Regions from separate parts of the Homo sapiens genome. Here regions 2, 3, 4, 5, 6 and 7 are each linked to region 1. Evidence: fine-mapped QTL for protein levels in blood plasma. Region 1 holds a variant in brackets. A gene starts in each other region. All regions are shown on their reverse strands.

What was found. PIP is the posterior inclusion probability: the model's chance that the variant is causal. The UK Biobank Pharma Proteomics Project read protein levels with antibody pairs (Olink). The fine-mapping took linkage between variants from a reference panel, not from the people measured, so its PIPs are less certain.
Region 2: it holds the start of TNFRSF9, and the variant in region 1 is fine-mapped to the plasma level of the TNFRSF9 protein (UK Biobank, PIP above 0.99).
Region 3: CR2 starts here. The variant in region 1 is fine-mapped to the plasma level of the CR2 protein (UK Biobank, PIP above 0.99).
Region 4: it holds the start of CD72, and the variant in region 1 is fine-mapped to the plasma level of the CD72 protein (UK Biobank, PIP above 0.99).
Region 5: FCRL3 starts here. The variant in region 1 is fine-mapped to the plasma level of the FCRL3 protein (UK Biobank, PIP above 0.99).
Region 6: FCRL1 starts here. The variant in region 1 is fine-mapped to the plasma level of the FCRL1 protein (UK Biobank, PIP above 0.99).
Region 7: it holds the start of FCRL2, and the variant in region 1 is fine-mapped to the plasma level of the FCRL2 protein (UK Biobank, PIP above 0.99).

The regions. Positions count from the first base shown.
Region 1 is chr17:16,946,666-16,950,744 of GRCh38, reverse strand. It overlaps TNFRSF13B (TNF receptor superfamily member 13B), which reads left to right. Exons shown (of 5, transcript NM_012452.3): 3 at 1,762-2,007. Among named protein-coding and RNA genes, the nearest start is that of TNFRSF13B, 23 kb to the left of the region's middle. The variant T/C (reference allele first, on the strand shown) is at 1,872.
Region 2 is chr1:7,938,894-7,942,957 of GRCh38, reverse strand. TNFRSF9 (TNF receptor superfamily member 9) reads left to right here and starts at 2,119. Exons shown (of 8, transcript NM_001561.6): 1 at 2,119-2,174; 2 at 2,880-3,063. The coding sequence starts at 2,964. RefSeq lists a silencer at 276-415.
Region 3 is chr1:207,451,923-207,456,001 of GRCh38, reverse strand. It overlaps CR2 (complement C3d receptor 2), which reads right to left and starts at 1,674. Exons shown (of 20, transcript NM_001006658.3): 1 at 1,526-1,674. The coding sequence starts at 1,583. RefSeq lists silencers at 1,116-1,225, 1,606-1,835.
Region 4 is chr9:35,616,146-35,620,224 of GRCh38, reverse strand. CD72 (CD72 molecule) reads left to right here and starts at 1,812. Exons shown (of 9, transcript NM_001782.3): 1 at 1,812-2,003; 2 at 2,104-2,211; 3 at 2,978-3,049; 4 at 3,536-3,625; 5 at 3,947-4,079. The coding sequence starts at 1,922. RefSeq lists enhancers at 2,808-2,957, 3,397-4,079.
Region 5 is chr1:157,698,819-157,702,897 of GRCh38, reverse strand. It overlaps FCRL3 (Fc receptor like 3), which reads left to right and starts at 2,129. Exons shown (of 15, transcript NM_052939.4): 1 at 2,129-2,236; 2 at 2,313-2,439; 3 at 3,186-3,206. The coding sequence starts at 2,409.
Region 6 is chr1:157,817,761-157,821,760 of GRCh38, reverse strand. It overlaps FCRL1 (Fc receptor like 1), which reads left to right and starts at 1,641. Exons shown (of 11, transcript NM_052938.5): 1 at 1,641-1,754. The coding sequence starts at 1,724.
Region 7 is chr1:157,775,314-157,779,391 of GRCh38, reverse strand. FCRL2 (Fc receptor like 2) reads left to right here and starts at 2,260. Exons shown (of 12, transcript NM_030764.4): 1 at 2,260-2,349; 2 at 3,597-3,617. The coding sequence starts at 2,319.

The DNA.
Region 1 (4,079 bases):
GGGGTGTGAGGTCAGGCAGGGAGGGTCAGTGGGCTGGGGCACTCAGGCACCACCTGCAACAGCACCACCTGCAACAGGGGAGGAGGTCACAGAAAGCCCCAAGGACACCAATGCTGGGCTAACCCTGTGTGATGCAGAGTGGAGGTGTCAGTTTCTGTGCGGTTCAGGGGCGCCCTGGGGATAGGGCAGGGCCAGAGCAGGGGAGGTCACTGGCCCTATGTGGGCCATCTGAGTTTTCCCTAAGGTCCCAATTCCGTGATCTTTTAGTTCCTTCCTTTACTCTGTCAAAGACACAAGAACGGATCTGTTTGCTTTGTGAAGAGGCTCAAATGAATATTCTACTTAAGCTTTCCATTACGTGAGCATTTAGTATGTGCCAGGCACTGTGCTGGGCCCTACAACTCTGCCAACAACCCTACGAAGAAGTCAGTACTGTTATTTTCCCTATGTTGGAAATGAGGAAACTGAGGCACGGAGAGGCTAAGACCACACTGCCTGCAAGTGGTACAGCCAGGGATGGCCCCAACTGAAATTTGGTTCTGAAATTTGGGTTCTTATCCACTATCCTGCACTGTCTCCAAAATGTGTCCTTAAAATATATGTGTGAGCCACATATATTTTATTTATACATATTTATTTATTTATTTATTCATATTTACGAAGTCAGGACATCTCAAAAGCCATACCTTACTCTAAATACAAAGGAAACTTGCCTTTTTCACGTAAAAACTTCCATGTAGAAATATTCGGAGGCTAGACCAGATGCGGTGGTTCATGCCACCTGTAATCCCAGCACTTTGGGAGGCCGAGGCAGGCAGATCACCTGAGGTCAGGAGTTCACGACCAGCCTGGCCAACACGGCGAAAGTCCATCTCTACTAAAAATACAAAAATTAGCCGGGTGTTGTGGTGGTCGCCTGTAATCCCAGCTACTCGGGAGGCTGAGGCAGGAGAATTGCTTGAACCTGGGAGGCAGAGGTTGCAGTGAGCCGAGATCGTGCCATTGCACTCCAGCCTGGGTGACAGGAGCGAAACTCCTTCTCAAAAAAAAAAAAAAAATTAGAAATATTCTGAGACTTTAGATAAGATAATTGATTGTTCCAAATAGGTTTCTTTATGCATTCAAAGTTGGGTCCACTGTGCTCTCTTAAGGCAAGTGTGATTTGGCTTTAGTTTCCTTGGCTTCTGTGCCTTGGCACTGATACTTGTGTAAGCTGCTGTAATTCTCATCTAGTATTAAGACAGAAGAAACACTATTCATGTGAACTTTTCCACCTTCCTTCCAGCCCCCTCCCCCAGCTTGTCAAAGAGGATTCTGGCTTTTCCCCTTCTTTCCTTATGCTGATTTGAAATATATTTCTCCTTGATGAGGCTTGAAAAATGCAAGTAAAAGTCTTATGTAACAATGTAATCCAGATCTAAATTTTAAATGATAACTGAAAATCTTCATACGTTTGGAAACTAAGAAATGCACTTGTAAATAACCCATAGGTCAAAGAAAAGATAATAATGAAAAATAAGTGCATTTTGATCTAGGTAGAGGAAAAATACTACACATCAAAATGCAATGCAGCTAAAATAGTACTTAGAGGACAATGCATAGTCTTCAATGTGTATATTGTAAAAGTACTTGGCTTACTCTGGAATTGCCTTCTGGAATTTTACTGTATTTTTTTTTTTAACTTTGATGTCCTTTGTGGTCAAACCCAGAGTTCCTGCTAGTCTGTGTCACCCAGCAGTATCATGAATTTCTCTCTCCCAGGGTCACTCAGCTGCCGCAAGGAGCAAGGCAAGTTCTATGACCATCTCCTGAGGGACTGCATCAGCTGTGCCTCCATCTGTGGACAGCACCCTAAGCAATGTGCATACTTC[T/C]GTGAGAACAAGCTCAGGAGCCCAGTGAACCTTCCACCAGAGCTCAGGAGACAGCGGAGTGGAGAAGTTGAAAACAATTCAGACAACTCGGGAAGGTACCAAGGATTGGAGCACAGAGGCTCAGAAGCAAGTCCAGGTAAGCCACCCAAGGCAAACCTGCATGGTGTCACGCAGGGTGAGAAAGCGTGGGAGGCCTGATGCCAGGCCTAGAACAGGAGAGTCCACAATGCATGAAGCCCAGAGTCCAAGCAAATGGCCAGAAGCCAGGGAGATCATCCCAGGATAAAAAAAACAATGTAGGCAACATTTCCAGAAGTCTGTGGACAAGAAGAAAGCAGGAGAAAGGACCTGCCGTGTGAGGAAGAGCCTTGCACTAGAGGCTGCCGAGGCTGTGCCAGTCATTGAAGCACAGGCACAAGTAAGCAGCAGACCCACCTGTGTGAGCACCTGAGCAGCAGCCACCACCTGCCCTCCACCAGTGCTGCAGACTCCATTTATTTCTATTATTATTTTATTTATAATTTCAACTTTTTTTTTTAGATCCGGGGGTACATGTGTAGGGTTTGTTACATGGGTATGTTGCTTGATGCTAAGGTTTGAGGTACAAATGGTCTTGTCACCCAGGTGGTGAGCATAGCACCCAATAGGTAGTTTTTCAGCCCTTGCCCTCTCTCTCTGCCTCCCCCTTCTAGTAGGCCCCAGTGTCTGTTGTTCCTGTCTTTATGTCCATCTGTATTCGACACTTAGCATTTCACTTATAAGTGAGAACATGTGGTATTTTCTGTTTCTGCATTAATTCACTTAGGATAATGGCCTCCAGTTGCATCCATGTTGCTGCAAAAAACGTATTTTTCTTTTTATGGCTGTGTAGTATTTCATTGTGTATATTTACCACATTTTCTTTATCCAACCATCGATGGGCACCCAGATTGATTCCATGTCTTTGCTATTGTGAATTGTGCTGTGATGAACATACGTGTGTATGTATCTTTTTGGTAGAACGGTTTATTTTCCTTTGGATATATACCCAGTAATGGGATTGCTGTGCTGAACGGTAACTCTGTTTTAAGTCCTCTGAGGAATCTCCAAACTGCTTTCTACAGTGGCTGAACTAATTTACATTCCACCAACAGCGTATAAGCGTTCCCTTTTCTCTGTAGCCTCACCAGCATCTGTTGTTTTTTTACTTTCTAACAATAGCCATTCTTACTGGTGTGAAATGGTCCCTCATTGTGGTTTTGATTTGCATTTCTCTGATGATCAGTGATGTTGAGCATTTTGTCATGTTTGTTGGCTGCTTGCATGTCTTCTTTTGAAAAGTGTCTGTTCATGTCTTTTGCCTACTTTTTAGTGGGGTTATTTGTTGTTTGCTTTTTGAATTGTTTAACTTCCTCATAGATTATGGATATTAGACCTTTGTTGGGTGCATAGTTTGCAAACATTTTCTCCCATTCTGTAGGTTGCCTGTTTACACTGATAGTTTATTTTGCAGTGCAGAAGCTCTTTCATTTAATTAGATCCCACTTGTCAATTTTTGTTTTTGTTGCAATTGCTTTTGAGGACTTAGTCATAAATTCTTTCCCAGGGCCAATGTCCAGGATGGTATTTTCCAGGATTTCTCTAGGATTCTTATAGTTTAGGGTCTTACATTTAAATCTGTAATCCATCTTGCATCTATGTTCCTCAGGGATATCGGCCTGTGGTTTTCTTTTTTTTGTTGTTGTGTCTTTGCCAGGTTTTGGTACCAGAGTGAAGCTGGCTTTCCAGAATGAGTTAAAGGAGACCCTCCTTGATTTTTTGGAATAGTTGCAGTAGAATTGGTACCAGCTCTTCTTTGTGCATCTGCTAGAATCTGGCTGTGAATTCATCAGATTCCATTTAGAGGCAAAAGAGGCTTCCTAAGAAAGAGAAGGGAAAGGTATCACTTAAAATGTTTAAGTAGTTCATTAACAACTGCCAGAGGGAAAAAAAATTGTAAAAAGAGAAGGCTCAGCATGGTGACTCATGCCTGTAATCCTAGCACTTTGGGAGGCAGAGGCAGGCGGATCACTTGTGGTTCGGAGTTCAAGATCAGCCGGATCAACAAGGGGAAACCCCATCTCTACCAAAAATACAAAAATTAGCTGGATCTGGTGGTGCACACCTGTAGTCCCAGCTACTTGGGAGGCTGAGGCAGGAGAATTGTTTGAACCCAAGAGGTGAAGGTTG
Region 2 (4,064 bases), not on the chromosome of region 1:
AACTATGTGCCAAGCATTGAGCTAAGTATTTCATGCTCATCGTCTCATTTAATCCTCACTCACGAGGAAGATGTATGGTGTCACTGCACCTGTAAGATGTGCTTGCAAAAACAGAGTTAGGGAGGTTGAGAAATTTGCTCAAGATTACACAACTGAGGCAGGAGAATGGGGAACATGAGGCGTGAGAGAGCAAAGGGAATAAAAATCACTGGGAACCGGTAACCCCCCTCACCCCCGAGAGTGGCCAGGGAGAGAGAGGCTGCCTGAGGGAAGGAAGCTCGGCAGGACCCGCTGCAGACCCAGGGCCAAGGGAAGTCCCGCGGGAGGAAACGCGGGCGCGGTGGGGCTGGCTCCAGGCACGCGGGCCAAGGGCGGGAGGGTCGGACACGAAGCCACAAGGCTCCTTTCCTTCCTCCTCCTTCCCGTCTGCCTTCTTCTGCTTCTGCGGCCTGATCTCCGAGTCCCTCTGCCTGCAGGCGGCGGCAGAACGTCCGCATCTGTCCGCATCTCAGCGCTGTCCCCCAACCGAGTCGCGCCGCGTTTTCCTCTTCTGTCGGGAGAGCTCGTGCTGGGAACCGCGGGGCAGGAGGACGGCCCAAGCTACTCTCGATGTCCTTCCCCAGCCCACGCCTGCCCCAGCCACAGTTCCCCTGGTTTTCCTGAGGTTCTCCAGCTGCTCAATGATGGGCAGGTTCATCTACAGCCTGGAGCAGCCGCCTCCTCCTCCTCCTCCTCCTCCTCCTCCTCCTCCAGAAACACCCCTTTTTCCTTCTCCTCATTCTTCCTTCTCATTCTTTCTCCTCCTCACTCTTCCTTCTCCTCATTCTTCCGTCTCATTCTTTCTCCTCCTCATTCTTCCTTCTCCTCTTCCTCTTCCCCTTCTCTTTCTGTTCTTTTCTTCTTCCTCCTCCTCCTCCTTTTCTCTTTATTTTTCTCCTCCTCCTCCTCTTCTCCCTCTTCTTTCTCCTTATACTCCTCCTCTCCTCTTACTGTACTTTTTTTTCCTTCTGCTTTCTCTGCCCTCCTCTTCCTCTTCTTCTTCTTCTTCTTCTTTTTTTTTTTTTTTTTGTGGCTGGAGTGCAGTGGCGCAATCTCGGCTCACTGCAACCTCTACTTCCCAGGTTCAAGCGATTCTCCTGCCTCAGCCTCAGTAGCTGGGATTAAAGGGGTCCACCGCCACCATTCCCTGCTAATTTTTGTAATTTTAGTAGAGACAGGTTTTTGCCATGTTGGACAGTCTAGTGTCAAACTCCTGACCTCAGATGATCCATCCACCTCGGCCTCCCAAGTGTTGGGATTACAGGCATGAGTCACCGCGCCTGGTCTCTTTCTCCTTTTTTTTTTTTTAAAGAAAAATTGAAATCATGGTTTTCTAAAAATCCCTCCTAGCTCTCAGCTTCACCGAACCACGTCCTGGTCATTGACTTGCCGTGTGACTGCTGTGCTTCCCCTGTTTCCATTTCCCTCCATTTCTCCCTCCTTCCTCCCTCTGTCACCCATGCCCGGAGGAGCACGATAAGGGACCAGGCCGACCTGGGTTCCAACCCTGCCTGCTCCCTGTCCTGTTGACGCTCTAATTCCACTTGCAGCCCCACTTTCCTCATTTGCATAGTGTTCTCCCAGTAACAACAGCAGTCATACCAAGTTCTAGGGTTCTTTCGAGGATAGTGTGTATTCACCGCAGTGCATCTCTGATGCCTGGCACATCGGCTGTGCTCAAGTAATGGCAGCTATTGCATTACAGTGACTATGGAGTTAGGGGACCGCATATGGCAAAATGCTGATCACTGTTTTGAATTTGGTTTCATTCCTCTAATCTCAAATCCAGTGTTTTAAGGACATGCTAAATGCTTTGTCCTGGAGAGCTATCTTAAGGGACAAAATCGTTTTCCCAGCGTCATCTGTGACACATCCTGACAGTAGAGAGCTGCTTCCAAGAAGCAATTTGAAGTGCCATTATCAGGCAGGGACGGGGGCTCTAGGGGATTTCGGGGTCAGCAGATATGAAATGAATGATTTCATAGGGCTGTCACAGAGCTGTGGTGGGAATTTCCCATGAGACCCCGCCCCTGGCTGAGTCACCGCACTCCTGTGTTTGACCTGAAGTCCTCTCGAGCTGCAGAAGCCTGAAGACCAAGGAGTGGAAAGTTCTCCGGCAGCCCTGAGATCTCAAGGTCTGTCCATCTGGGGGAGTGGGTGGGGGCACTGAGAAGGGGTGAGATTGGAACTTTTGCTCCCTTTGCCCATTTCTAGACTTTTTCTCCTAATATGTAATAACTTCTCTTCAATAGCCCTTTAAATAAACATCAATAACTTAGCCTGAAGAGTTTTTCACTCCTTAGTTTTGTTACCATACAAACTTCACATCTCAAAACATGTCTCTGTTTAAGAAAATGTGTTAGTGAGTTGAACAGGGAGGTCTTTCCACATGTTAGTAGTTAGGTGTTCAGCTAAAGGGGGAAGAGTGATTATGTGATAGCTTCTTCTTGAACTGAATTGTCTGATGCCCCTGACAGATTCTCTTTGTAAGGAGTTTATTTCAGGGGCAATAAGTAATTGGCATTATTGCTGGTTGGTACTGCAAAGTACCTATGAAAGTCCCCAAAAGTTCTTGCTATTGTTATTTCTGCATTTTGGCAGAACATGATGGAAAATGCACCCTCAAACTTTGGCAAACCGGCACAAAGCTGTGTGTTTAATCACGCCTGCCTTGTCCTAGTGGTTTCTATGAATCTGCTACTTTTCCGTAATATTGCATCATTAATTGTTCCTGAAAAACCCTGAGTTATCCTCTTATAGAATTGTATAAGTAATGATTGCAATATAGATAATTTTGAAAGGAGAAACCACCTTTCCTTGGAAATGTTTATCTTTTGCAGAGTGACATTTGTGAGACCAGCTAATTTGATTAAAATTCTCTTGGAATCAGCTTTGCTAGTATCATACCTGTGCCAGATTTCATCATGGGAAACAGCTGTTACAACATAGTAGCCACTCTGTTGCTGGTCCTCAACTTTGAGAGGACAAGATCATTGCAGGATCCTTGTAGTAACTGCCCAGCTGGTGAGTACCCAGTTATCATGTGCATTTGATCTGCTCTGTTGGAAGTATGGTTCAGTTAGTCTAGTAGTCAGGGCTAACGAGCTCCCTTTTAAGGAAAGGAAAATGAAAATTCATTCATTTACAAATGTTTATTGGATGCTACAACCTAGCTGTGTGAACACAGCAAAGTCATTCAACCTCTTGTGCCTTGACTTTCTCATCTGGGGATAATAAGAGAACCTGTTTTATAGGATGGCTGGGAGGATCAAATGAAGGGCTTAGAACAGTGCATGGCACAAGGCAAGACTTCAATAAATGTTAGTTTTGTGTGTAGGGCTTTGTGCTCCGACTGGGGGCATAGCAGCGAGTAAGCGCGTAGTAAAGGGCTTAACAGAGTGGGGACGGTCAGTCGCATTTAAATTTTAGTGTAGGACATTGATGTCCTCCTGGATCCAGTCATATTCATCTCCTACATCAATCAAGATAATCATTTTGTTTTATTCAATAGATAAAGTATTTTCTTTCTGTTGATTTATTTGTTACAATATCTGGTTTTTTTGTTTTTTTTGTGTGTGTATGTTTTTTTTTTTTTTTTTGAGACACAGTCTCACTCTGTCGCCCAGGCTGGAGTGCAGTGGCACGATCTCAGCTCACTGCAACCTTGGCCTCCCAGGTTCAAGCAATTCTCCTGCCTCAGCCTCCCGAGTAGCTGGGATTACAGGTGTGCACCACTGCGCCTGGCTAATTTTTGTATTTTTAGTAGAGACAGGATTTCACCATGTTGGCCAAGCTGGTCTTGAACTGCTGACCTCAGGTGATCTGCCCGCTTCGGCCTCCCAAAGTGCTGTGATTACAGGCGTGAGCCACTGCACCTGGCCTGTATTTTGTTATTTCTAATTCTGTGATTACACAAAGAATAATCTTGCAAATGTATTGTTTTAGGAAGTCAATCAAACTAATGTCCACCACTGTGGCATCTAGAAAACTCATCATTCTTTTATAATCTTATTTTATTGTAAACT
Region 3 (4,079 bases), not on the chromosome of region 1:
AAGAACCAAAATCTCTTAAAAGAGATGAGGTTGTTACACAGGTAATTATAATGCTTAGGATGGGAATACTGGTACAAAAATGAGAAATGGACAAACAACAGAAGCACAGTAGCTTGAATGGCTGATAGGTAGACCTGGTATTTCATGGGGCTCCAGTTAAGTGACCTACATGATGCTGCTGCTGTGGCCCTGAATTGGCAGGACTGGTGAAGAATTTGATTTTCAGTTGATAATATCCTCTTTGAAATTTAGAAATAGGTGAGAAGTCAGGGACGTACTCTGCTCTTAGAAAAAGTGTGAATATACATTTGTTCAAAGGGAGTTAATATGCAGAAAAAGAAAAGAGATGAAGATAATGGTCTGGAGAAAGGTTTAAGGGTCAGGAGACAGTAAAATGTCAGGAAAGCAAAAAGTTGTAATAAACTAATATGTGCTGTATTCCAGACACCTCAATAAGCTGGATGTCCATAGAAACAATTGGACACCCAGCTTGTTAGCTTAAATGCTGGCTCCATAAAATCAAGTCTGTACAGGAGGCTTATTACTGATATTTAGTAGTAACGACTAACATCCAACTTTCTTTGCTTAGTTTCATCTGTGCTCAGGGCAGCTCAGTGAGGTGGAAGGCCAGTTAATCACTAGTTTCATTTTACAGATGAAGAAACTGAAGATCAGGGAGCTAAATGACTTGCCAAAAGTCACCCAGTTATTGAGGTCTGCACACAGTAAACGTCTTATAAACTAGGAATGCACGGTACCGTGGAGATAATTAGAAACTTAGACCCATCCTGTAGCCAAGAGACGCTAATCTTAATTATAATCTTTCTTTAAAATCAAGCCAATCTGGAGGAAAAAAAGATATAATAAACGGTGAATGAGACCTTTGCGGACGTCCACACCATTACAGTAGGTTAATAACAAGAAGAAAACAATAGTTTTAATCCATGTCTCAAAAATAACTACGGATGGTTAATGTTTAGGATCTCTACCAATATCACATTAGAGTTCAGAAAATCTGAGACCCATGCTTGGGAACCAGGTCTTACTCTTATTTAGGGAAGGGAGCCGAGGTTCTGCCGCTTTTGCTGGGCAAGAGCGCGGTTCGGGTGTACAGAAACAGCCTCACGTGGCTAGCTGGTGCCTCATGCAGTGGGTAGGTTTCCCGTGGCGAGCGGTAGCGCTGACCGCCGGCCAGAGAGCGATGAGCACCTGCAGAATCCTGGGGGCGGGGAGCCCGGCAGGAGACCGCGAGCACCCGCACGCCGCCAGCCACACCGGGCCGACCAGACAGCGCCCCTCTGTGGCGCAGCCTCCAATTCTGGAGGTCCCAGCTCCCGGAGGGGCCAGTGGGGACAATCAGGACCAGGCGGTTTATTGCAGTGGTCCCTCAAAGCTAGCGGGAGGCGGACACGCGTCGAGCACTGCCCCCACCGTCTCGCTTTTGGCCCCCTGCTTTGCATCGCGGCACAGAAACTTTCCCTGCCCGGGACGCGTCCCCACCTCCGTGCTCCCCCTCCCAGCTCACCGAGGACCCCCGGTGCGACGAGAGCCAAGAAAACCCCGAGCAGGCCCGCGGCGCCCATGCCACGGCCGAAGCCCCCGCGGCGGGATGCGTTCCGAGACCCGCGAGCGTCCGGCAGCTCTGGGAGGGCAAGGCTGGAGCAGCAAGCAGCTGTGAGCCAGGAGAGGCGGGCCCTTAAATAGTGTCCGGCACACGTGCTAGTTCTGAGCGCACACCTGCAGGCGGCCTGGGGGCTGACGCGGCGCCGGTGAGGGTGGGACAAGCGGGAGGGACGGCCCGGCACGAGGTGGGCGGGGAGCTCTGAGCCACTCTTTGGCTCAGACTCACCCCTCGTTGCGGTGGCTTCCCCACTTTTTTGACCACGCAACCCACTACACTCACTTGTTTCTCTTACTAGAACTTAAACAAAACTTTCACAAGTTAGTACTCACCCTTAGTAATCTACAATGTTCGTCCTCTGTGCCATGCTGTGTTATGCTAGACTAGGCTAGGCTATCCTATTCTTATTAGAAATCCACCAAACTCATTTCAAAACCTATTAGTGGATTCATCTCCCAGTTTGAAAAAGCAGTGTAAGTTTACTTAGGGAATTTAGGAACAGCAGCCACTTCTGCTCTGTTCTTTATTTTGAAGTAATCTCTACAGAAAAGTTTCAAGAGTACTGCAGAGAATTCCCATATACTTGTCACCCAGATTCTCTGCATGTTAACATTTTGCTGTATTTTCTTTACCATTCTCTATTCTTTCTCTATAGACATATATGTACATATATGTGATTATATAATTATAATTATATAATTATTACTTTGGAACCATCTAGCATTTATTCCTATTCTAAATGGTTCACTAAGGACTTTCTGTTCCATAACTAGAGTGCAATGATCAAAAATAAGAACTTAACATTGACACAAGACTATAAGCTACCATCTGTATTTAAATTTTGACAATCATCTCAATAACCTGTGTTATGGTAAAAACAATAACAACAATAGAAACCAACCTTTGTTTTTCCTGGTCCAGAATCATTTCAGGATCATGTATTGTGTTTGATCATTATGCCTTCCCCCCACCCCCAGTTCTTTATTCTGGAAAAATGTCCTCAGCATTTTTGGTATTGCATGACCTTTACATTTTTGACGAATACACCACAATTATTTTTGGAGAATGACTTTTAAGTCCGTTATCTATTATAATAACAAATTACCCTGAAGGTAGTGGTGTAAAGCAAGAATAAACATTTATGATCTCACAGTTTCTGTGGGTCGGTCAGGTGGTTCTGGCTTGGGATCGCTCAGGAGATTGCAGTTAAGACACCAGCTGGAGGTGCAGTCATCTGAAGGGTTAACTGGGATAGGCGAATCCACATCTAAGATGGCTCACTTACCAGCCTTTGGCTGGAAGCTTCATTCTTCACCACGTGGATTTTGCCATAGGGCTCGCTGCTTGTGTGTTGAGTGTCCTCGTGACATGCCAGCTAGCGTCTCTGAGAACAAGAAAGAAGAAGCCATAATGTCCTTTGTGACCTGTCCTCAGAAATCACAATATGTTAACTCCAGAATATCCAATTGATTGTACAGATCAGCCCTTTTCAGTGTAGGAGGGCAGTATACGTGGATGGTAATGTCAGGAGACAGGATCACACCCCACAATTTGGATTTGTCTATCATTTCTTCATGATAGATTCAGGTTATTGAATCTAATTATTTGACAGGAATACCAGAAAGGATGTCTTATCCTTACGGGGAGGCATATGTTGTCTATTTGTCCTATTACTGGTGGTGGTAACTTTGATCACTTAGTTAAGATGGTGCCTGCCATGTTTCTTAGTGTAGACTCAGTATTTTTCCCTTTGTAATTAATAAGTATTTTATAGGGAGATACTTTAAAACTATGTAAATTCCTCATTTTTTCATCAAATTTTTACCCACAAATTTTAGCGTCTATTGATGATCCTTTCTTGAATCAATTTTTACTATGATGGTTGTCAAAGGGTGTTTTTTCCTAATTTAATAATTACTTCTATATTCATCTGTTGGCATTTTACTGTAAATAAAAGTTTTCCCTTCTCTATTTATTTATTCATTTATCTATATCAGCATAAACTATATCAATATGAATTTTATTTATTTACTCAATGGGTCATAATTCATGGCTACCATTATTTATTTTGATGCTTAAATTCTCCCTGATCGGGCCAGTGGGAGCCCTCAAAATAGTTCCTATGTCATTTTGACTTGTTCTTATTGTTCTTTGAGCACTTCCTTACTTTCTGGCACACACACAAAAAAAAATGCTCCAGACTCACCTCTAGACCTGACACTGGAATTTGCTGTTTCTCCAAGGAATGCTGGTTCTTTCTGGCAGAGAATGGCATTTAGATGCCAGAATTGGATGCTAAGTGTGTTCATTTTTATTGGAGTATCATTGTTTCCGCACCCTCTCAGCAGACAGAGCAAGGATATGTATTATATATATATATGTATATCCATTCCCATATCTATATTTATATATGTCATGAATTCACAGTGATTCTTCCAATTTCAGTCCGTTAGCATAG
Region 4 (4,079 bases), not on the chromosome of region 1:
GGCATCTACATCATGTTCACCTGTGTATTGGATCTGAAAACTGGGACATTCTACAGTTTGTGGAACTCCTGCAAATGTTCCTGCAATTGATTTACTCACACACTGCCCACACCCACCCCCTGTACACCACAGGTTCAAGTATTTGACTCTTCCCACCCCACCCACCCCTGCCACCAGCTGCTCTATACCCTCCCACTCACTCTCAGGGCCCCTGAGGTCCCCAGGGAGTCACCACCACATACCACTCTCTGTATCTGGGGGAAGGTCTAGGTTGTTGGAAACTTTAATCAAGCAAGGACAGTTAACAGCTGCAGAGGCACCTTAGGAAACAGTGAGCTTCAAAAAGGAAATACTTGTAGGATCTCTTGTGATGACCTTTGACGACTTTTCTGAAAATGACCCGTCATTCTCTGCCATGGAAAATAACAGTGATCACAGGCAGCCTTCAGCCCACAGAAGGCTTCCTCCTCCAGGCAGGCTCTGACATAGCCGCTCACCTCACAGATGCCCTAACAGACTGCAAAGTCCTGGGAACATGCATATCCATGCACACACATGCACACGTGCCTCTCTACAAGTACATTTTTGAGGTCACAGCTTTGCCTCAGTGGCCACTTCCTCTAGGGCTGGCTGGGCGGAGCTATTGGCAGAGCTCTAGGGTCCCTGGCAGTGTCCTGCCACACACCACCAATCATCCGAGCTGTTGGCATGTGGTGAGGACCTTTTCCCCCTTCCTTTTTCCTCCCCACAGCTGCAGGAGGGGGATTCTGCGGGGCGGATGTCACTTTGCTAGGGGCGGGTTCTTCCCACCCCCACACTACATCTTGTTCTAGCTCCTTCCTATCCCGGATGTAGGCCATTTTGGGGTTCCTAGTAGGGGTCACATCCCGGTAAAAGAACATTAGGGAGCACCTTTGGGCACCCCTGCTCAGCAGCCCCCTTTCCCCCAACTGGTTCCCTCTCTCCTCCATCAGCCAGGCCCCCACCACCTATGAGGGCCTCGCGGTCCCTGGGTCCTCCGCCACAAATGCCCCCTTTTTCCTTGGGGCTGGGTGGGAAGGGACAGCTTTGGGACTTTTTAAAGAAAGAACTTTGCTAGGAAAGTAAGAGACGAACCAAAACCAAACCAAGAAAATGTCAAGACCTCCGCTGGTCCGGAATCTGCGCTCGGCCTCTGGCTCTGTTCTGCTCCTCTGCCTTGACTTCACCTAGGAAGCTGCAGCCTTCTTAAGCCCTCTGCAACTCCCTTGCTCACCTGCTCCCTGGCTCCCCATGAGGGTGCATGGGGGGCAGTGCTGCCACTTGCCTTTCCAGAGGTGCTGCAGCCATGGCTCTTCCTTACCTTCACCTCTGGCCCAGGCCTGTTCCTGAACCCCCAGTTACTGGAACCCCCAGGATGATGAGAAGCGAGGGATGCAAACCAGGAACCCCCAGTCTCATGGGGAGAACGGAGCCTCACCCTGGAGCTGGGGAGATCGTCTGGGTCAGTGCAGCTCCAGCTACACATCATAAGCCCCAGTGGACAAGGCAGCCAGGAGGAGGGTGGGGCAGATCAGGGCAGATAACCAGAAGGACCGAGTTTGGGGCCCAGCATGGCCCATATGGGTTTAAGATGCATGGAGAGGAAGCACAGGGAGGACATGGGGACAGGCCCATCCCCTACCCCTGTGTTCTGGACCTCAGCGTCCCCTCCGTGGCCCCTCTGGCCCTGGCCCAGGGATGCCTTCTGCTTCATTGAGCCCATCTGTTTGAGACTTGCTAACACCTTCCTCTTTTGTGACTGGAAGTCACAGGGCCAATTGCTAAGCCGTGCAGTCACAGAGGGAACACAGAGCCTAGTTGTAAACGGACAGAGACGAGAGGGGCAAGGGAGGACAGTGGATGACAGGGAAGACGAGTGGGGGCAGAGCTGCTCAGGACCATGGCTGAGGCCATCACCTATGCAGATCTGAGGTTTGTGAAGGCTCCCCTGAAGAAGAGCATCTCCAGCCGGTTAGGACAGGGTAAGGGGGATGAGGCCTCCCCTTGATCCTGCATCCCCACTTCCCGCCCCACAGATCCCATTCCCAAATCCCACCTTGGTCCCTTTTCTCTTCTCTCTAGACCCAGGGGCTGATGATGATGGGGAAATCACCTACGAGAATGTTCAAGTGCCCGCAGTCCTAGGGGTGCCCTCAAGCTTGGCTTCTTCTGTACTAGGGGACAAAGCAGGTCTGGAGAGCCTGGGGGATGTGTGTTTGTTGGGGGGCTGTGTCTTGAGCTGGGGAGTCCACAATGTTTTTGTTGTTGTTCTTGAGACAGGGTCTTGTTCTGTCACTCAGGCTGGAGTGCAGTGGTGTGATCATGGCTCACTGCAGCCTCGACCTCCTGGGCTCAAGTGATCCTCCTGCCCTGGCCTCCCAAAGTGTTGGGATTGCAGGCGTGCGCCCCCATGCCATGGCCCTCAGTATTCTTGAGAGCACAATACCCTGGGGAAAGGAGGAGGGCGGTTCTTAGGAAACAGAAGAATAGGAACAGGATAAATGGGAGCCAGGGGAGGAAGAAAGATTCCTCCCGCAAGGTGGAGACCCCTTTCGGGGAGATAAGGGCTGCGGAGGGATAGGGCAGCCCTGTGGGGGATGAGTTCTAATGGGAAACGGGGAGCCATGGGAGGGAAAAGAGGTGATGGGAGATGGATGAGAGCAAAGGGGGAGAGGGTTTGGAGCCGACAGATAAGGGGCCTCTGAGGAAACGATAAAGGGAGAACTAGGAGAGATGAGGGGGTCCCGGGAAAAGATACAGTGAGACCCAGGAGGAAGCCGAGAGAGTCCCGGGCAGAGGAGGAACTCAGGAGAGTGACACTGTGTCCCAGAGCAGCTCTAGCAGGCAACGTAGGGCAGACTGGAGTTTCCCAGTGGCGAGGGCGAAGCGGGTGCGCAGGAGGAGAAGGGGCAACACTCGGGGCTTCCGGTCTCACACTGGATGCTCCCCTCGACAGCGGTCAAGTCGGAGCAGCCAACTGCGTCCTGGAGAGCCGTGACGTCACCAGCTGTCGGGCGGATTCTCCCCTGTGAGTGTGCCTGTGCGGGGCAGCCGCGGGGCCAAGTGCTCGCGCCTGTCCCGGCTGCGGATGGCGCTGGGCCCCGCGGGGTGCAGCTCCTTCCGGGATAAACCCGGGCGCAGTCCTTCCGACGCCCGGGCTGCCGTGCCACATTCACCTTCATCCGGTGCGCCTGAATCCGACGTGCACCGCCCCCCTGCGGATGGTCCCAATTCACCTACCTGCCCCCCTTCCCCTCTCTCCGTCTGATATTTCCTTCCCCTTCTCCCAGGTAACGCCCCCGAGTCCCCACCAGCACTGATTCTGGAACACCCTCTCCCCTACCTGCGAAACACCCCGCTACCCGACAGAAACCACCATGCTTGCCCCCTCAGCTCTGCACCGCCCTCCTCTTAGGGATGCCTTCCCCAGGGGTCTCCCCCACGGACCTGTCCCTTCCTCTCTACATTCTTTACGGGGGCTGACTGCCCTCATCCATCCCACTGTCCCCCTAAGGCCGCACAACCTGCCTGCGATACCTCCTGCTCGGCCTGCTCCTCACCTGCCTGCTGTTAGGAGTGACCGCCATCTGCCTGGGAGTGCGCTGTGAGTAAGGCTGTCCCTACTTCCCACTTACACCGAACGACTTTCGTCCCGACTCTCGCCCCAAAGCTGATCTTCCTCAGCAGGGATCATAGTCACTACCACCACCTCCTTAGCTTTGGGTTTGGTTTCCAGCCAGGGCTGTTGTCTTCCTGAATTGTCCTCACCTAATCCAGTACCTCCTTACGCTTTAGTCAGTCAAATCTTGTATTTCAGCCTGTGATGCAAAAAGTTGCAAGAAGCAGAAAAAGGGCTGATGCTGCAGTCTCAGGGCACTAGGGCAGGGCTGGAGAAGACATCCACCAAATCTCTGTGGCCAAACAGATCTGCAGGTGTCTCAGCAGCTCCAGCAGACGAACAGGGTTCTGGAAGTCACTAACAGCAGCCTGAGGCAGCAGCTCCGCCTCAAGATAACGCAGCTGGGACAGAGTGCAGAGGATCTGCAGGGGTCCAGGAG
Region 5 (4,079 bases), not on the chromosome of region 1:
GCCATGTGGAACTGTAAGTCCAATAAACCTCTTTATTTTGTAAATTGCCCAGTCTTGTTACGTCTTTATCAGCAGCATGAAAACGAACTCATACATATCCCAAGTATTGTATGGAACATAATTATAGTAAAAATTATTTGTTTTTTATTTGAAATACAAATTTAAATGAGACCCTTGCATTTTATCTGGCAATCCTCTACTGAGTGTTAGGCACTGTGCTAGGTGCTAGAATAATGTGAATATGACATAGTTCCTGTCTTCAGAGAGAGACGTAGAAAAATGTAACATTTTTGGCTACAGATGAGCAATTAAATTCAAAATACTCTTTTCTGAGCATATCTTTCCAACCACAGGAAACAATACTTCAGAGTCATCAACAACATCGTCACCTTTGAGCATGAAGTATATTTGAGGTTTATTCATATTTTGAATTAGTCTGAAATGACACACTGAATCTCGAAGCTATCCATATCCCACTGAACCTTCCTTTTGTTGATGAGCATGCTGTCCTCAGAGAAATAAAAAATAAGCCCTAACCGCTCCCTTCCCTAAAGATACTTAGATCATTGAGGAATACCATCAAAGGGACAGGATGTTTCAGTTCACTGTGATCGGTTCTGGAGTGAAGGAAATCCAAGTGTTATTGATGCACATGAGAGGAACACCCAGCCCAAATGTGGGAGGTCAGAGAATACCTCTCAGTAGATGTGGCACCATACTCTACAATTACAAGTTTACAAAGACCCTGTAGTGTGGATTAACTGGGTATAGTTTAAATAAATAATTTAATTTAATTTAAATAAATTGATATAACCAATATATCTTCTCCAGAATATTGGAGAAATCTCTAACCAGGAATGACTAAGCACACATTGAAACACATCCAATCCTCTTCTATTGTCATCCTGTTCCTTACTGTTTGTTGGTCGTTCATTTGGCAAGTCCTTATTGACAAATTGGTATGTGACAAGTGCTCTGTTAGGCATTGAAACAAAATGAAGAACAAACCAGGCTTGTTCCCAAACCTTGTAATACTATCTAATGAGAAAAATAGGCATTATACAATCACATAAACATATAGAGAATGATAAAATTTGGTGACTTCCATGGGAGAAAGAACATAATAATATTTGTTAAAAAAGAGGACCCTCTTTCCATTACCTGCCAAGGTTGGGCACCCTGAGGATGGGACATTTGATCTGAGATCATCTCCCATTTCTAATGTAAAGGTATCTGAATGATGACAACTTTATCCTGGTAGGTAGATTCCCAAGAATGGCTTACCTCTAAGTCTAAAACACGCCTTCCTAACAGAAGTTATATCACCTTCAAAGGGGCAAGAATTGACTCTTGGGAAGATGAAAAAAACTAATTTTTTAATGTATCAAACACAGCTATACATGCAGCACATAAACACATACATAGTATATTTGTGGTATTAAATTTTCATGGAAAAAGGGGGTGGCTAAAAACAAAATTGTCTAAAAAAGATCCTTAGGGGAGCAATAACGAAAAAATGGTTGAGAAACACTGGTTCAGAGTTTTTATTCAATAGTCCCTCAAATAATACTTACTAAAGGAATGCTTTCAAGAAAGAACAGTTAGAGGTGCGGGGGATATAAGGGGTAAGAAAAGGGGCCCTTAAATGTTAGTGGGAAAGAAGACACGAAAGCAAACAAGGAAATAGAGAAAATAATTGCAAATTGTTATAAACACTGTGAAAAAAACACAAAGGACCTGAAACAAAATAATGGGGTGGAACCTCTTTGATTGCAAAGCCCTTTCTGAGAAGGGCTTTGGCTTTAAAAACGGTGGTACGCTTGCTGATTTATCTCCTAATTTGCAGATCTGGGTGAGATTACGGGAAGTCCTTGATCTGTACATTTGTATTATTTTCCTGTTCAGAAGCCTCATAACAACTTATGTGAAAGTCAAAAAGGCATATGCTTGACACCTTGACTGTGTGATTCACACCACGCTCATTAAGCTTGCCTACATTAGGAGCTGCATGCAGAACCAAAGGCTGTGTGAAGACAAGGTAGTGAAGGGGTTTCCCATATGAAAAATACAGAAAGAATTATTTGAATACTAGCAAATACACAACTTGATATTTCTAGAGAACCCAGGCACAGTCTTGGAGACATTACTCCTGAGAGACTGCAGCTGATGGAAGATGAGCCCCAACTTCTAAAAATGTATCACTACCGGGATTGAGATACAAACAGCATTTAGGAAGGTAGCCACATTCACATTTTCAGAGCCCAAAGCAAAATATGACACTAAGCTCTTCTTCCCTTTTCTGATTCTTGCAGGTCTCATCTGAGTAGCAGCTTCCTGCCCTCCTTCTTGGAGATAAGTCGGGCTTTTGGTGAGACAGACTTTCCCAACCCTCTGCCCGGCCGGTGCCCATGCTTCTGTGGCTGCTGCTGCTGATCCTGAGTGAGTAGATGGGCTATAATGGGGCCACGGCCTCAGTTCCTAAAGGTGACCAGGGAAAAACTCAAGGAGCTTCTATCTCTGCTTCTACTTGGGGTTCAGAGACAGATAGCAAGGGATGGGAAGTGAGCAGAGCTGGGTTCCCTGGACAACCAAGAGGCTCCAAATGCAACCATCAGAGCAAGCCAGATATCCTGACCTTGGTTTCTCACCCACTGCTTTTCTCACCTCATAGGAAACTTGGATTTTTCCTTCTGCCAAACCACAACTCTATATCCCACCCTCCCTCTTAAGCCTCAGACTAAATAATTTTTCAGATGAGCAGTTACTTCTAAAAACCTAGGCACGTGAAGGAAGGTTTACTGAGAAACATCACTGTTTTCTAGAAGTTTTAAGCCAAAATTTAATCAGAGATTGAAAAAGTGAGGGGAACAATAGGAGCCCAAGGAACGAAAGGAGGATAAACCATTTCTGTAAGTCCTTGTCTGCCTCTGCACTCAGAGAAGAGAAGGAGAGAATAAAGTGTGCCGTGGCCAAGTAAATAATAGCAGAGATGAGGTCAGGCCTTGGACATAAGCCATCACGTTTGTAAAATACATTATATGACATTTTCTTTGTTGTTTAGGGGCTCTGGATGATATAAAAAGGGAGCAAAGAAATGATAAGGAAAAACAAAAGAAGTGGTTGTGGTTAGGTTGTTAGAAAATGTTTCGGAGAGTGTCTGATTGTCATTTTCTGCTCCCTCACAGCTCCTGGAAGAGAACAATCAGGTAAGTTTCTCCTTCTCTCTGCCCCTCTGGTCTCTGGATATTGGTCCCCTCAGCCCACACAGCCTGCCCTAACCCTTGCAGGCACGCATCCCATCAGCAATGCTAATGCTCTGGGGTCACATCTGCTACTATATTGGGTGAACAGAGCCTCCTCCGACTTTTTCAGTCTCTAGGTTTTTTTTTTTTTTTCTCCCTACATTACCGGTATTCCTCAGACTACAGGAAGGAAACACTTGCAGAGCAAAGGACAGAGGCAAGAGGCTGATGATGAAGGAATCTCATATGTGATCTCCATATTCTCTAGTACATCTCCCTCTGAATGTCCAAGCTAGTGCTGCTATCAAAGGACATAGAAATAGATCCCATCCACGGAGGAAGATGCTACAGCAGAATCCTTATAAATCTCCAAAAAGAGCTCATGCCACTGCCACACCTCACTTCCATGCCTGTCAGTCAGTTGCAATTCCATACACAAGTCTGACTTCTCAGGCAACCCATCCTCCTCCATTTAAATTCTTTATATCCCTCCATTGTTTACTGTGTCCAACTTAAATGGAGAGTAAAGTTGCCTTCCCCATAGACTTTCAAAGCTAAGAGAGATATAAAAGTAATACAAGTGAGAAAATCTTATTCATTTTAAGTGTTAACAAGTAGGAAGTAATTTTCTGGAGTCTAGAAACTACTTCTGAGGTATATACATCCCAGGTTCACCTTTATCTGGACAGAAATGTATAGGACAAGAGAATTTCAGGATCAGCCACATTCTGAGGCCTTCGCAGTTTTTGCCCAATGGCAAATCACATCTCCTGAGCTTTTCTGAGGCTATGCCAGGAAACTGAGACCTCTCCCCTATAATACCCTTCTGCCCACCTC
Region 6 (4,000 bases), not on the chromosome of region 1:
CTGAAAAAAATAAGAAGTTGATATTATGGAAGTATAGCATAGAATAGCATCTATCAGAGACTGAGGAGGGAATGAGGAGGGAAGAGAGGGAAAGATTGGTCAACAGGTACAAGGTGCCAATTCGATAGGAGGAATAAGGTTTGGTGTTTTATTGCACAGTAGGGTAACTATGGTTACTAGTAAGGTATTATATATTACAAAATAGCTAGGAAAGAGGCTTTTGAATGTTCTCACCACATAGAAATGAAAACTGCACGAGACAATGGATATGCCAACCACCCTGATTTGATCATCACTGTACAACATATATATGTATTATATTGCAATGTCAAACTGTGCCCCATAAATATGTACAATTACAATGTGTCAATTAAAACATTAAAAAAACCAACAGATTAAAAGAAAAAGAGAGAGATGAAACAGCAGAGTGTATGCAAAAACAGCTTTACACCCTGGATTTAAAGGGCTCTACATTCTCATTCAGGAGATTTTTTTGCATTGGTCCTGAAACTTTACACTAAACAAGCTTATCCCCACACAGGCTTTCCTAAGCCAATAAATAAAGCTATGGAATACCTATTCGTTTTCAGCACTTTCGCTGTTAGCCTGGTTACCAACATTGCTCCCTTTTCCCTCTGGTTTTGCGTATCACTGAATAGTTTCTTTTCTCAGTCATACTCATTGAGCTGGATACCTGGACTTAGACATCATTGCCTGACAGCATCTTTCCCCTAATAGGTTACTTTCCACACATTCTAGTTATTCTTAATCCTAGACACTCACGGATTTAAGAAATGTTGAAAATTAAGATAGCTTATTCTCCTCCAATCCCTAATCTAGGCTTCACTTGCCTAGAACTGGTATCCCTAATGTGCTAAAGGTAGCAATGGGAGAGATTATAGGTGCCCTGATTTTGAGGGAAAAGAGGGGCAATTTTACAAATGCCAGAGTTAGTACTAATGGTGAACCCTTCTCAAGTGCCCTGAAGCTAATTTGCATATACTTCTTTTCTGTATTTCATTTTCAAATATCCCCCAGATTGTAATTTGCCGTGATTTTATTTTTCAGTGATTTCATGCTCATTTACTGGTACACTGAAAGTTTGAATATCAAAGCGTATATCTGTATGAATAGGTTGACCCTGTACATAAGTCATCATATGCAGCAAGGGTCAGACACTACACATAACCGGGGTGACAGCCCCATCAGTCCCTGATTTAATGACATGTTTGCATAATATGACTATACTAGAGAAAGTTTGCATAGTGGGACTATATTGCTGAGCAAGAAGAATGTGCCAATTAGAAACAATCCAGGAGACATCCCTATCAAAGGTGAAAAGTATTGTAGATGTATCAAAGATGAATTTCAGCAGGACCATAACCTGATGAGACTCATCAAAGTAGGAAACTGCCTTTAGAAAACTTCCTTTGAAATACCTGAATTCTTGAAAAAGTCCCTCAAATATTGATGTGTACTATCTGCAGCTTGTGGAACTGAATCAAACTATATTTAAAAAGGAGCATCTTTAATTTTCTCAGACTTCATAGAAAAGGAAATGGAGACTGGTCACTAGAGGGTTCTTCTTCCTTCTACTTCTGCTGAAGGGTAACTTCCGATATCAACTTCCTCAAACCTCTGATGAGCTGCTGCTGCTCGACTCTGAGGTGCATTCTTTTTTTGATGAGAGGCATCTCTAGGTACCATCCCTGACCTGGTCCTCATGCTGCCGAGGCTGTTGCTGTTGATCTGTGGTGAGTTGGGCAACTCAGAGCAGGGCATGGGATGCAATCATGCTTGGGCTCTGCTTCCTGAAGGGCTGTAAGGACTTCTTAGGACTAAGGTTCTGTCAGGTAATGCTCAGGGGTGCTCAGATCTCCACTTCCACGGAGGGCTCAGAGTCAGGCAAAAAGTTGTAGATATTTCAAAAAGCCAGAGTTTTCAAGAAAACTATCATTTCAGTTTTTATCTCATAGGAAGTGTTCACTGTCTGTCTTCCTTTCCATCAATAATTGTCTTTGTTCTCAGTGTTTTCAACAGCTGCCAAAAGAAAAATCTGTATAATAAATAGGCCTCTGAATTCCTTGCCCTTCTTACTACCAACGTTATTTCCTTTTATCCCTCTCTGACTCCCCATTCCCACAGTCAAACCTTAGAACTTATCATCACTCCTTTGTTTTCAGCATACATCCCCCACCCCCACTAAGTTGTGTTTCTAGCTCACTTTCTCCTGCACTCTATTTCCAACATGACTTCAATTACCCCAGGGCTACTTTTCCATTATCAGTAACTACACTTCATGTGCTCACTTCTCATGGTGCTCAGCTCAGATTCTGCAGCTCACCACCACAACACTCCCTCGAGCACACCTTCATCTCTCTTCCCCCATAGCACTCTCCTGGTTTACACGCCCTTCTGCATGCTTCACTCCTGGACATAAACAGCTGAATGGGATTTTTTTTTAAATGCACAACCCTGATGACTTATCCCCTTTTAAGTGTAGGACCCCCAAATCTCAGGTAGCCAACAGCAATGCCAGGCAATTATCCTACATGTTCACAGTCCATGTTGCTCCATTATCACTATTGCATACCTTATCCTGTCACCTCATACTTCTCTGTTCACTCTCATTGTGTAATCTTGCTTCATATTTCATTGAGAAAATAAAAGCAGTCAGAAGAAAACTCTCTCATCTTTCTGTTGCTGTTGACCTACTCACCTCTGCATTCACATACACTGCCTTCTCTTCCCCTACCACGAATATATTGCCCCTCATCTTGTTGATGACAAGACTCTCCACTTGTGCATTAGGCCCATGACCCTCTTACTTTCTCAAAAAGTTTGCTCCATCATCAATATGTTTCTTCATTCTAAATTATTCCCATAAGTATACAAACATGCTACAGTATCTTTTATTAAAAACAGCTTTATTGAAATATTATTCACATATAATACAATTCACCATTTAAGTTATGCAATCCAATGGTTTTTTATGACAATCACTGAGTGGTGCAACTATCACCACAATCAATTTCAGAATGTTTTCATCACCCAAGAAAGAACGCCATACCCACTAGCAGGCATCCCCAATTTTTTTTCCAACGCCTCACCTATCCTCACCCCTCTATTTTCTGGCCACATGCAATCATTATCTACTTTCTGTCTCTCTATATTTGTCTATTCTGGACACACACCCCATATCTAACTGTAATTATATATCCCTTGAGCAACATTTCCCTCATTCCTCCTTCCCCACTATTACCCAAGCTTCTTGTAACCATGATTCTGCACCGTCCTTCTATGAGATCAACGTTTTCAGATTCCACATGAGTGAGATAATGCAGTACTTGTCATCCTGTGCCTACCTCATTTCATTTAACATAATATCCTTCAGGCTCACCCATGTTGTTGTAAATGATAGGATTTCATTATTTTTTATGTCTGAATAGTATTCCATCATGTATGTATATTGCATTTTCTTTATCCATTAATTTTTTGATGAACATCTACATTGATGCTGTCTTGGCTATCGTGAATAGTGCTGCAATAAATGTGGGAGTGCAGATATCTCTTTAACACACTGCTTTAATTTCCTCTGGATACATGTCCAGTAGTGGGATGGCTGAACCATATGGTAGTTCCATTTTTTATATTTTAAGAGCCTCCATACTGTCTTCCATAATGGCTGTTCTAATTTACAGTCCCACCTACAGCATGTGAGGATTCTCTTTTCTCGACATCTTTGACAATACTAGTTATCTTTGGTCTTTTTGATTATAGTCATTTTCATAGGTATGGGGTAATATTTCATTGTGGTTTTGATTTGCATTTTTCTGTTGATTAGTGATATTGGGCATTTTTTCATATACCTGTTGGCCATTTGCATTTCTTCTTTTGAGAATTAGACCATTGTTAATAGGGTTGTTTTCTCACTATTGAGTTGTTTGAGTTTCTTATATATTCTGGATATTAACTTTTTCTCAGATGTATTGACTGCAAG
Region 7 (4,078 bases), not on the chromosome of region 1:
GGTTGGTCAGAATGGGAAGGAATTATAGGCCACCTAGAAACCCATTCAGTAGGCAAGATTTGATGATCAGTGACTAGCTTTGGTCCTGGGAAAGAGTAACTTACACTTTCAAACACATACAAACCGTTTGCCTATGCAGAAAGTTAAAGTAGTATTGTTTTCAACACTTTAAGATGAGAGAGGCCATAAAACCTAGTTTCTTATAATGAATCTTTAAAAAGTACGTAAATAGCATATGTTTATTGTAAGAATACTAGAATACACAGATAAGCAAAATAAGGAAAATAAAAATCAGCTTTAATTAGATTTTTTGGATATAATTACAGTAACTCTGTGGTGCGAATTGTCTCAGACACTTTTTATTGGAGAGCAGGGGATAATGTGCAGCAGATAAAGTGCACTCTGCAGCCACTTTTTTCTTTTCTTTTCTTTTCTTTTTTTTTTTTGAGACGGAGTCTTGCTCTGTCACCCAAGCTGGAGTGCAGTGGCACGATCTCGGCTCACTGCAAGCTCTGCCTCCCGGGTTTGTACCATTCTCCTGCCTCAGCCTCCCAAACAGCTGGGACTACAGGCACCTGCCACCACGCCCGGCTAATTTTTTGTATTTTTAGTTGAGATGGGGTTTCACCGTGTTAGCCAGGATGGTCTTGATCTCCTGACCTCGTGATCCGCCCGCCTCAGCCTCCCAAAGTGCTGAGATTACAGGCGTGAGCCACCGCACCCAGCCCACTTTTTTCTTAATCATATATCCTAGACATCTTATCTTGCTATTAAATATTATTCCACAGAATTATTTTAATGGCTGTTTGGTTTTCCACAGCATTTGACACATAACTTATTTTTAACACACATCTCTCCTTGTGATATATTTTTAGTATTTTCTTTTTACATTATTATAAGCAAGGCTTTAATGACCATCACATATAAATATTAGCCTTTCTCAAAGTAAAACTATGATAATAGTGAGAATAAAATGTTAAGTATCCAATTGTTAAAAATTCAATGTTAAGTATTCAGGTAAATGTTAAGTACCTGAACAGGTAACATTGAGTCTATGAATATTTTCAGTCAGTCCCTCATTTATAAGCACCTGTGATTTTTTGGTTTAGAGTTTCATCCTGCATAAGGTTCACTGATGAGACAACATCTACTGGGACTACATCTAATCAAAGTGAGCATGATAATAGGTGTTCACATAACACGCGCTTTGCTTTGTGTGAGATAACTGTATTAGGATCAGCCTGGGGTACAAAAAGCAATGCAGATTAGAAATAGGCAATGTTGTGATTACAGATTAGAAAGATGGCAATGTTTTCAGCAATATAGTGCAAGTGTTTTGAAGTTTAGTAAAATCTCATTCTAGAAAGTCATCGAATGACTACGAAAAATTTTACTTAAGAAATATGAGCTATTGAAACAATGGCCTTATTATTTTATGAACCTTGAGAAGCAATATATCAAGATAATAGGGCACAATGTTTAAGAGCCAGACTGTGACACTGGGCTGCCTGGGTTTGAATCCCAGATCTGTTACTACTAGAAATTGATTAAGCTGATCTTGGTCATTTTACTGGCTGCTATCATCTGAATGTTTGTGTCCTGGCAAAATTCTTATGTTGATACTTAATCCTCAATGCAATAGTAATAAAAGGTACCCACCTTTTATTACATGACCTTTTAGGGGTCATGAGTGTGGAACTCTTATGAAAAGGATTAGTCTCCTTGTAAAAGAGGCTTGAGGGAGCTTGTTTGCTCCTTCCATCATGTGAAGACACATAGAGGACACCATCTATGAGAAACAGGCCCTCATCAGACACTGAATCTACTGGTGCCTTGATCTTAAACTTCCCAGCCTCTTGAACTATGAGTGATAAATTTATGTTGTTTATAAATTTCTCAGTCTAAGGTATTCTTTATAGCAGCCCCAATGGACTAAGACACTTACCTTTACTAGTGCCTCAATTTCCTTATTCATGTGAAAGGGGATAGTGCCAATTCAGAAACTTGCTGAAGGTAATAAATAACTCTGTAAGCATGAGGCACTTAGAACTGTGTCTGACTCATTGCAACCCATATGTAAATGCTAGGTATCATAATGAGGGTCAAGTTACAAAATTTCTCTGGCATTGAGAGGATCAGCTATAATTGTTTTAGCCCTTCCAGGACAAAGATAATGGTTAAACATAGTGGCACTATTCTACTTCCTTTTTTGCTAATTATACAAAACCTATTCTGAAAACCACATTTCATCGCCTGCTCAGAGTCTCCAGTTGGTGACCAAGAGTACATCTCTTTTCAAATAGCTGGATTAGGTCCTCATGCTGCTGTGGTCATTGCTGGTCATCTTTGGTGAGTTCAATAATTTGACTGAGAAGTGAGGTGGCAGCTGAATGAGGTCTACTGCTCCCAAAAGGTTGGAGGTTTTATTGGAGCCCAGGGACTGGTGGGGATGCTCAGGTCCTGCCTGCAGCTTGGGCTTCAAAGGCAGATGCAAAGAAGTAGGCTGAGGACAGTGAATTTGCAGCACATCCATTAAGCATTAAGCACAATGCTTAATGTTCAAGGTGGACCACTTTTCCATTTGCTGGTCATGAATTGCTATTTTGATATCTTAGATCTCATTGAGTAATATAATGTTCTCATAGTAAAATGTTCATAATATTAGCATTTAGCAATGCCCTTCTCCTCCATGAACACCGATTATTCAATTGTTATCTATAAGATTTGGGTTCAGCAGATGCATTGAGACCCTTTGCTAATATTCCTCTGTTTAATCGTGGACAATGAGGGAGATGACAGCTGCTGCTAGAAAATAAGATTCCTGGGTGAGTGCAGTGGCTCATACCTGTAATCCTAGCACTTTGGGAGTCCAAGGCTGGTGGATCACTTGAGGTCAGAGTTCGAGACCACCCCGGCCAACATGGTGAAACCTCATCTCTACTAAAAATACAAAAATTAGCCAGGCGTGGTGGTGGGCACCTGTAATTCCAGCTACTCGGGAAGCTGAGGCAGGAGAATTGCTTGAACCCGGGAGGTGGAGGTTGTGGTGAGCCAAGATCGCACCATTGTACTCCAGCCTGGGTGAGAGAGTAAATAAGATCCCTTTCTCTATGCTGTGTAGGCACTAAATAAATATTTGTTATTGGAATACAAAGGGCTCTAACGTGAAATATGGCCATAGGAAAGAGACTGATTTGTTGATTTCTTGGAACTCTCACAATGTATGTTTCCTGATGAGCCCTTTGTGATCGTGTTGTCATGTCTATCTACCACTTGAAAAGTCAGAGTGTGAGATAGAGTGGTGGGGATGGTGGAAGGAAAATGAAATCAAGGAGAGTCACTAAATATCCAACATGGGTATTCTCGACAATCCCTTTAGTCAAGCATTGGGTTTGCAACTTGCCTTTTGACTACAATGAATGACAGTTAGATGTGTGCTCGAGGGAGATTGAATTGTTAGTAATAAGAGATTAGGGAAATAGAAAAGAAAGGGAAAATGGAAAGAAGTTTTTGAGCAATTTACCAGAGTAATATAAATTTATAAATTATGAGGGCAAATGCTGTGTGCTAATCTCTGGCTTTTGATCTCCTCACAGATGCAGTCACTGAACAGGCAGGTGAGTCCTCCTTGTCTTTGTTGTTCTTGGTCTCTGGCATATCAGTCACCCCACTACCCCAGGATTCTATAGAGGTGGCTCTGGAAAGCCTGTGAAGATGTCCTAATATTACTGCCCTCTAGGCTGACATGTTCTGAGGTCACGCAGCCTGTTTCCAACACCACTTGCATGTCTGGGTGACCAGGTACCACCTAGCCTTCTCAAGACCCCACATGCTTGCCTCTTCCTTAAAAGCCTGGCTTTAAGAAGGGCAATAACATGCAGATTGAAGAAAAGAACAATTTGGAGAGAATTGTTTTCCTGCCCATAGGACTGTAATGCCTCTTTATTGTCTGGCTGAATGCTGAATGTTTTTACAGCTCTGAAAACAGCTATTTATAGAGGAATGTGTCAGAACTACAAACTTCTGCAGGGTCAGAATAAACATGTGTCCTCATTGCTTCTCTAGCTCTAGCTCAGGA